Homo sapiens: one gene and its partner. The protein of the gene in region 2 purifies or fractionates together with the protein of the main gene of each other region. This does not show direct contact. Each region holds a gene or a part of one and is shown on either strand. Other genes may lie near its edges.

The links.
Region 1: the proteins of WIPF2 (region 2) and PACSIN1 purify together in Homo sapiens (co-immunoprecipitation; one large-scale study listed by IntAct). This does not show direct contact.

The regions. Positions count from the first base shown.
Region 1 is NC_000006.12:34,472,576-34,476,075, reverse strand, and holds part of PACSIN1 (protein kinase C and casein kinase substrate in neurons protein 1), read right to left. Parts: intron 1-3,500. UniProt on the Homo sapiens protein: Plays a role in the reorganization of the microtubule cytoskeleton via its interaction with MAPT; this decreases microtubule stability and inhibits MAPT-induced microtubule polymerization.
Region 2 is NC_000017.11:40,264,042-40,268,060, forward strand, and holds part of WIPF2 (WAS/WASL-interacting protein family member 2), read left to right. Parts: intron 1-448; coding exon 449-1,105; intron 1,106-4,019. UniProt on the Homo sapiens protein: Plays an active role in the formation of cell surface protrusions downstream of activated PDGFB receptors. Plays an important role in actin-microspike formation through cooperation with WASL.

The DNA of each region.
Region 1 (3,500 bases), on a different chromosome or scaffold from region 2:
TGAATGGCCTGGTGCCTAGTTCAGCACACAGCACACCACACGCAATACATATTCATTTAACATTCAAAAGGATGAATGCTTGAGAGTAAAACTACAAACCAGCAGCCACTAAGACGATTTGTCCGCTAATCAGAGGATCCTGAGTAAGAATTTGAGCTTAAATCTAACCCCTTCCTGGCTGTGCAACCTCAAGCAAGTCATTTCAGCCCTAAGAACCTCAGCTTCCTCCTCTAGGAAATGGGAATAATTATCATTAATAAATACCATCCCCACAGGCTTGTGGCAAGGCTCAAAGCAGAAATGGATATGGAAGTAGAGGGGGTACTGCCAGTGTCCTTCTATCAGGTGGGGTACCCATCTCTCAGCAGCTGTGGGTGCTGGCTGCTAGCAGCTCACAGCTGCCCCCTTCCCCTGAGAGCTGCCCTTGGCTTACAGGAGCTGCCTCATCTGGAGATGCAGGGGGAGGCTAGGCCCTTCCCCGGGAGCAGCTTGCAGACAATGACCACCAGCTAAGGGGCTACAAAGGCCTGGCCCCTTGTCTGGAGGAAGGTAACCCTGGGAGACTGGCTGTTCATAATCTAGAGCTCTCCGTGGGATCCTAGCTGTAAGCAAATCTTTTCCCGCTCTAATATGAGCATGCCTGCAATAAATCATTTGCCCGGGAATCCTTGTCTCAGCTCTGCTTCTAGAAGACCAGACTTGAGACAGGAAGTATTTTGTAAACAATGACACACTAGGCACAAATATGTGTTTTTTTAATTTTTTTTTTAATTTTAGGAAACATTGAAAGTAGAGGAGCTAGCAATGTGAGAGGAGGAGGCGGTCAGCTCTGTGGGCAGGGGTGAGGGGTAGGGGAAGCCCAGTCATGCTGCTCTGCCCCCACCCAAACCCTGCCTTCATGGAATGCTTGGGCAGGTAAGGGGGACAGACAAGAAACCAACAAGAGCATAATGTCAGGGATAAGTGCTATGAAGATGATAAAGTAGAATCAGGAGATGGGGGACAACGAGGGCTGTTTTTGATAAGGTGGTCTGGGAGGCCTCTCTGAGGGGGTGATGTGGGTGGAGATGTGAACATCATGAGCCATGTAGGCCTTTGGGGAAGAGAATTCCAGGCATAGGGAATAGGAGTGCAAAGGCCCTGGGGCAGGGTGTTTGATGGGTCCAAGAAATGACCTGGGGATCAGTGAGGCTAGGATGTATGAGAGAAGGTCTGAGGTATTGGGCAGCCGGATCACATGGGGTCTTGCAGGCAATTATAGGGCTTTTTTTTTTTTTTTTTTTTTCTGAGACAGAGTCTTGCTCTGTCACCCAGGCTGGATGCAGTGGTATGATCTCAGCTCACTGCAACCTCTGCCTCCCAGGTTTGAGGGATTCTCCTGCCTCAGGCTCCTGAGTAGCTGGGACTACAGGTGTGTGCCATCACACCTGGCTAATTTTTGTAATTTTAGTACAGATGGGGTTTCACCATGTTGGCCAGGCTGGTCTGAAACCCCTGACCTCAGGTGATCCACCTGCCTCGGCCTCCCAAAGTGCTGGGATTACAGGTGTGAGCCACTGCATCTAGCCTGTTATAGGATTCTGGGCTTTATTCTGAATGGGAGGGGAGTCATTGAAGAGCTTTAGCAGAGGAAGGATGTGATCTGATTTAAGTTTTAAAGGACCTTTGGCTGGTGAGGCAAGGACGGGGCAGGAAGACCAGGTAGAGGCTGCTGCAAAGATCTAGGAGAGGATAGTGGAGGCTCAGAAGGGAAGGCAGCAATGGAGGTGACAAGAAGTGGGTGGATTCTGGGTGTTTTGAATGTAGAATTGAAGGACTTGTTGATGACTAAATGAGGTGTCAGGGACAGACAAATGCAACTCCCAATTTACAGAGAGGACAGAAGAACATACTAAATAACACCACAGGGATGCAATCAACAAAATCCAGTCTGCAGGAAACACAGCAGGACAAACCACCTGCTTCCTCCCATAGATAAACTGCAAAAGAATAAGAAAAGATGGAGAGGAGAACTGTGGATTGAAAGAGACTAAGACATATCAACCAATCATAACGTGTGAACTTTACCTGGAACTTGATTTAAACAATTTAAAAAACAAAAAGACATGTCTGAGACAACAGGGAATGTGAATACTAAGTGAATATTTGACTATATAAAGGAATTAATACTTCTTAGGTATAATAATGGTATTGTGATTGTGTTAGAAAAAGTCCTTATCTTTTAGAGAAATATCTTGATTGAGATGAGATTGGACATGTGTTGGTATCTGTTGATGCTAAGCCATGAGTATATGACTGTTATATAACATTTTCTCTACTTCTGTAAATGCTTATAATATTTCACAATAAAAAGTTTGCAAATAAAAGACAGAAGAGGAAACAGAATCCAAGGGAGGGGGTTGAGTGGCCCTAGGCCCCTCAGTGAGTCAGTGTCAGGGCCAGGACCTCAGCCTGGACCCCCAACCCCCAGCCCTCCAGCCCTGCCTCGGCTGCCCCTCTTGTCCTCAGTGGCTGGTCAAGGCTAGACCCCGGGAACCCAGTGATGAAATGTGTGACCTCAGGGAAGGCCCAGATTAGGCAGAGTGGGGCTAAGGGATGCAGGGTCTTTGCCAGGCCCTGCAAGGAGAAGCAGCCCTGGGCCACCTGTCCCACAAGGTCCAATGAGGCTGATCATTTAAAGTGCCCTGCAGCAGCAATCCAAGCTGGCTGCCCCACCAGCCTCACGACCCATGTCCTCTCTCGTGTTCCTATGCTGATTTCCTCCCCAGCCCCTGAGACCACCACTCACATTCCAGCCTTTGCATCTTTGTCCCTGCTGTCACTCTGCCTGGAATGTACCCCCCCGCCCCCCGCCCCGTCTCTGGATCTGACCAGCCTTTCCTTCCAGGTCTGCCTTCTGCAGAAGACAACCCTCCTTCAGTCTTCCAGAACACACCTGCCTCCAGTCTCTGAGACAAGAGATTATCCCCATTCCTCGACGACAGGTGCTGAGGCAGAGAGGCTCACAAGCACAGCTTCTGGAGCCAGACTGCATGGCTGTGAATCTGGCTCAGCCACTTACTGTGTGACCTCAGGCAAGTCACTTAACTTCAGTTGCCCCATCTGTAAAATGGGGATAACCCCATGAGCTTACTAAGAGGACTAAATGAGTTATAAATATGGATAAACAAAAGAGCGCCTGGCACATGTCAGGGATCCCCGGCCCCTCCTTTGTGCCCCTACAAGACTCCCCAGTGCTACACAACCACCACTTTGCCAGATACCCCACTTCTGCCATACTCCTTCTACAGCCCTCCTGATACCCAGATGTTACCTTACCTTACCCCCTTTCCCATCCCGCCAGGTTTCAGGCACCACAGGCCTGGGAGGAGGGAGAGGGAATATAAGCCCATGAGGGGACCAGTTAGGAACCAACCACAGATAAAAACTCTCCAAACACACGTGGCAGCATGTGACTCACATGCCATCAGATTAAGGGGAATGGAGTTTACGTGCTCATT
Region 2 (4,019 bases):
CCAGAACTAGGCCGGACGTGGTGGCTCACGCCTGTAATCCCATCACTTTGGGAAGCCGAGGTGGGCAGATCACCTGAGGTTGGGATTTCGAGACCAGCCTGTCCAACGTGGTGAAACCCCATCTCTACTAAAAATACAAAAATCAGCCAGGTGTGGTGGCGCACACCTGTAATCCCAGCTACTCGGGAGGCTGAGGCAGGAGAATCACTTGAACCCAGAGGTTGCAGTGAGCTGAGATTGCACCATTGCACTCCAGCCTAGGCAACAACAGCGAAACTTCGTCTCAAAAAAAAAAAAAAAAAAAAAAAAAAAGAAAAACAAAAAACCCAGAATTATTCAATTCCTTTCCCTGCTGCCATGCAGGTTGCACTAAGGAGCCGAGTGAAGTAGGGATACTGACCAATATCTGTCCAGCTCTGTTGACCCTGTGTTGTCTATGTATTTGTAGAGAACCTAGCTGGTAAGCCAGCCCTGCAAATCCCCAGTTCTCGAGCTGCTGCCCCAAGGCCTCCAGTATCTGCCGCCAGCGGGCGTCCTCAGGATGATACAGACAGCAGCCGGGCCTCACTCCCAGAACTGCCCCGGATGCAGAGACCCTCTTTACCGGACCTCTCTCGGCCTAATACCACCAGCAGTACGGGCATGAAGCACAGCTCCTCTGCCCCTCCCCCACCACCCCCAGGGCGGCGTGCCAACGCACCCCCCACACCTCTGCCTATGCACAGCAGCAAAGCCCCCGCCTACAACAGAGAGAAACCCTTGCCACCGACGCCTGGACAAAGGCTTCACCCTGGTCGAGAGGGACCTCCTGCTCCACCCCCAGTCAAACCACCTCCTTCCCCTGTGAATATCAGAACAGGACCAAGTGGCCAGTCTCTGGCTCCTCCTCCTCCGCCTTACCGCCAGCCTCCTGGGGTCCCCAATGGACCCTCTAGCCCCACTAATGAGTCAGCCCCTGAGCTGCCACAGAGACACAATTCTTTGCATAGGAAGACACCAGGGCCTGTCAGAGGCCTAGCACCTCCTCCACCCACCTCGGCCTCCCCATCTTTACTGAGTAATAGGCCACCTCCCCCAGCCCGAGACCCTCCCAGTCGGGGAGCAGGTAAGTGCTTGGAAGCACCTTTTTCCCTATCATGCTGTGAGTTGATTTTATCTTTCCCCAGAGCACTCCTTGAAGACAGTAATTCGTTTATTCACTCAGTGGGTTTATTGAGTACCTTTTTATGTGTCAGGTCTGTTGGTAGGGAAATAGCAATAAATAGAAAAGACAAAAAAATTTGACAGTCAAACTAGTAAAATATATAAATACATAGTATGCAGTATGCTTTAGAGAATTACAAAGCAGAGGAGAGGAATAAGATATACTGGGGCGGAGGTCGGGATGATGATATCTTTAATTGGAGGAGTGGGGAGAGAGTCAGGACAGTCCTTACTGATACGGTGAAAATTTGACAAAGACCTTAAGAAAGTGACGAGTAAGCTTAGTAGTTATCTAGGAGAACAGCTGTTGCAGGCAGTGGGAACAACAAATGCAGAGGCCATAAGGCAGAAGTATTCTTGAAACATTTTGGGGACAGCAAGGGGGCCATTGTGGCAAGACTACAAAGAGTGAGGGGAGGGAAGAGTGGTAGGACTTGGAGGTTGGAAAGCTGGAGCTGCAGGGGAGAGCGCACTGCAGGATTTTGCAAAGACCTTGGATTTAACTGTGTGAGATGGGAAGCCACTGGAGGGTTTTAAACAGAGAAGTAGTATGATTTGATTCACCTTTTAAAAAGATCATTAACTCCTATGTTGAGAACAGACCGCAGGAGGACAAAGGTGACAAAAGGAGACCAGTTACTGGGCTGTTGCAGTAAACGGCCAGATGGTTAGGACTACTGTGAATTTGTGGGAAGATAGGTGTTCAGTTTGAGACAAGTTTGAGATGCCTGTTAGGTAATCAAGAAGAGACAATGAATTGGTAATTGGCTATCAGACTCCAAAGTTGAGGGGAGAGGTTTCGGCTAGAGAGATACATTTGAATGGTGTTGAAAACCACATGCTGGATGAAGTCACCTAAGGAGTGAATATAGATAAGAAGAGGCCTAGGAGGCTGAGGCAGGAGAATCGCTTGAACTCAGGAGGCAGAGGTTGCAGTGAGCCGAGATCACGCCACTGCACTCCAGCCTGGGCGACAGAGTGACAGTCCATCTCAAAAAAAAAAAAAAAAAAAATGAGGGCTGAGCCCTCGCCCTCCTACATTAGAGGCAAAAGAGATGAAGAATACCCAGCAGAGGAAACAGAAAAGCTTCTAGTGAGGATGGAAGGAGAAAAACCAAGAATGTGATGGAAAAACTCCAAGGTAGAGTAAGTGGTCAGCTGTGCCCAGTGCTGCAGATGGGTCAGGTAAGTTAAAGACCAAGAACTGGCATTGGTCTTAGTATCATGGGACCCTTTTGAGTAGTTTCAGTGGAGTGGTGGAGGGTGAAAGTGAAAGCTTAATTGGAGTGGGTTCAAGAATGCAGGAATAGGAGGAGAGAAATTGGAGATAGCAATATAGAAATCTCTTAAAGAGTTCGCTGTAAAGTCCAGGAGAGAGGGGTGAAGATAAGTGAAGTGATTGTTGGACGAAGATGTGGGGTTGAGAGTTGTTTTTTTCCCATCCCAAGATGGGAGACCTATTTGTATGCTGATGGAATGAGTAGCATGAAACTTAGGAGAGAGGGAAAAAATTGAATCAGAAGAGAGGGAACAGATTGCCTGAATAATGACCTGGAGGAGGCCAGAGAAAAGAGAATGTGATCGATAGATAAAAAGGGTTGGCCTTAGATAGGAACATAGTTCTTCCATAGTAACAAGAGGGGAGGCAGAGCATATAGGCTTAGAAGCAAGTGGGTAGGTGGGTGTAGTGGTAGAAGCATGTGGAAAGTTTATTCTAATTTGCTTCTGTTTTCTCAGTGAAATGGAAAGCAAGAGCATCAGCTGTGATTGAGGCGAGGGAAGGAGAAGGAGAGTTGAGGAGAGAGAAGAGGCATGAAATGGTCATCTGGAGCGTGGGAGTGTGGGTGGACTAGGGAAGTGTGCTCAGATAGGCAACCACGCGAAGGGCCCACTTGAGATTATGGGCCATACATTTCATGTGAGATTAATTAGTCTCATGTGTTCAGTTGTGATTTGCAGGTACAGAAAAAGAGTAGAGCTGTGTTTAACCAGCGTTAGCATGTTTTAGGCATGTGCGACTCTAAGGGAGAGTGGGGCAGGAAGGGAAGGGTGTATGTGAGGGAGTGATTGCAATAATGGAGCCTAAGCTGGGTGAGGAGGGAATTTAGGAACCCTGGAAAAAGAAGAGGTTGTGTAATCTCGTTATAATTAGCATAACTGAAATTTTAGAGTGAGGGAGACCGTGACAGCTCTCTGGGGCCTTATTGGACATGGGAATTTTGGCTCCCATATCGTTGTATCATTAGACTTTGAGACATACCCTCCACAAACAGCTTCTTGGCCTTTATTTATTTATTTGTTTGTTTGTGTTTTGAGACAGAGCCTTGCTCTTTCGCCCAGGCTGGAGTGCAGTGGTGCAATCTCTGCTCATTGCAACCTCTTCCTCCCAGGTTCAAGTGATTGTTGTGTCTCAGCCTCCTGACTAGCTGGAATTACAGGCATGTGCCACCATATCTGGCTAATTTTTGTATTTTTAGTAGAAACGGGTTTTCGCCGTGTTGGCCAGGCTGGTCTCAAACTCCTGACCTCAAGTGAGCCACTGCGCCCAGCCCTTAGCTTTTATTTTAAAGTCAGTTTCTACAGGTATAGAACATTGATTAAGGAGTTATGTCATGGAGTCTGGGCATGATGGCTCACGCCTTAATCCCAGCACTTTGGAAGGTTGAGGCCAGCAGATCATTTAAGCCCAGGAGTTCGAGACCAGCCTGGGCAACATGGCAAAACCCTGTCTCTACAAAAAATAATTTTAAAAAATTAGCCTGGCATGGCGGTGCATGCCTGTAGTCCCAGCTACTTGAGTGGCTGAGGTGGGAAGA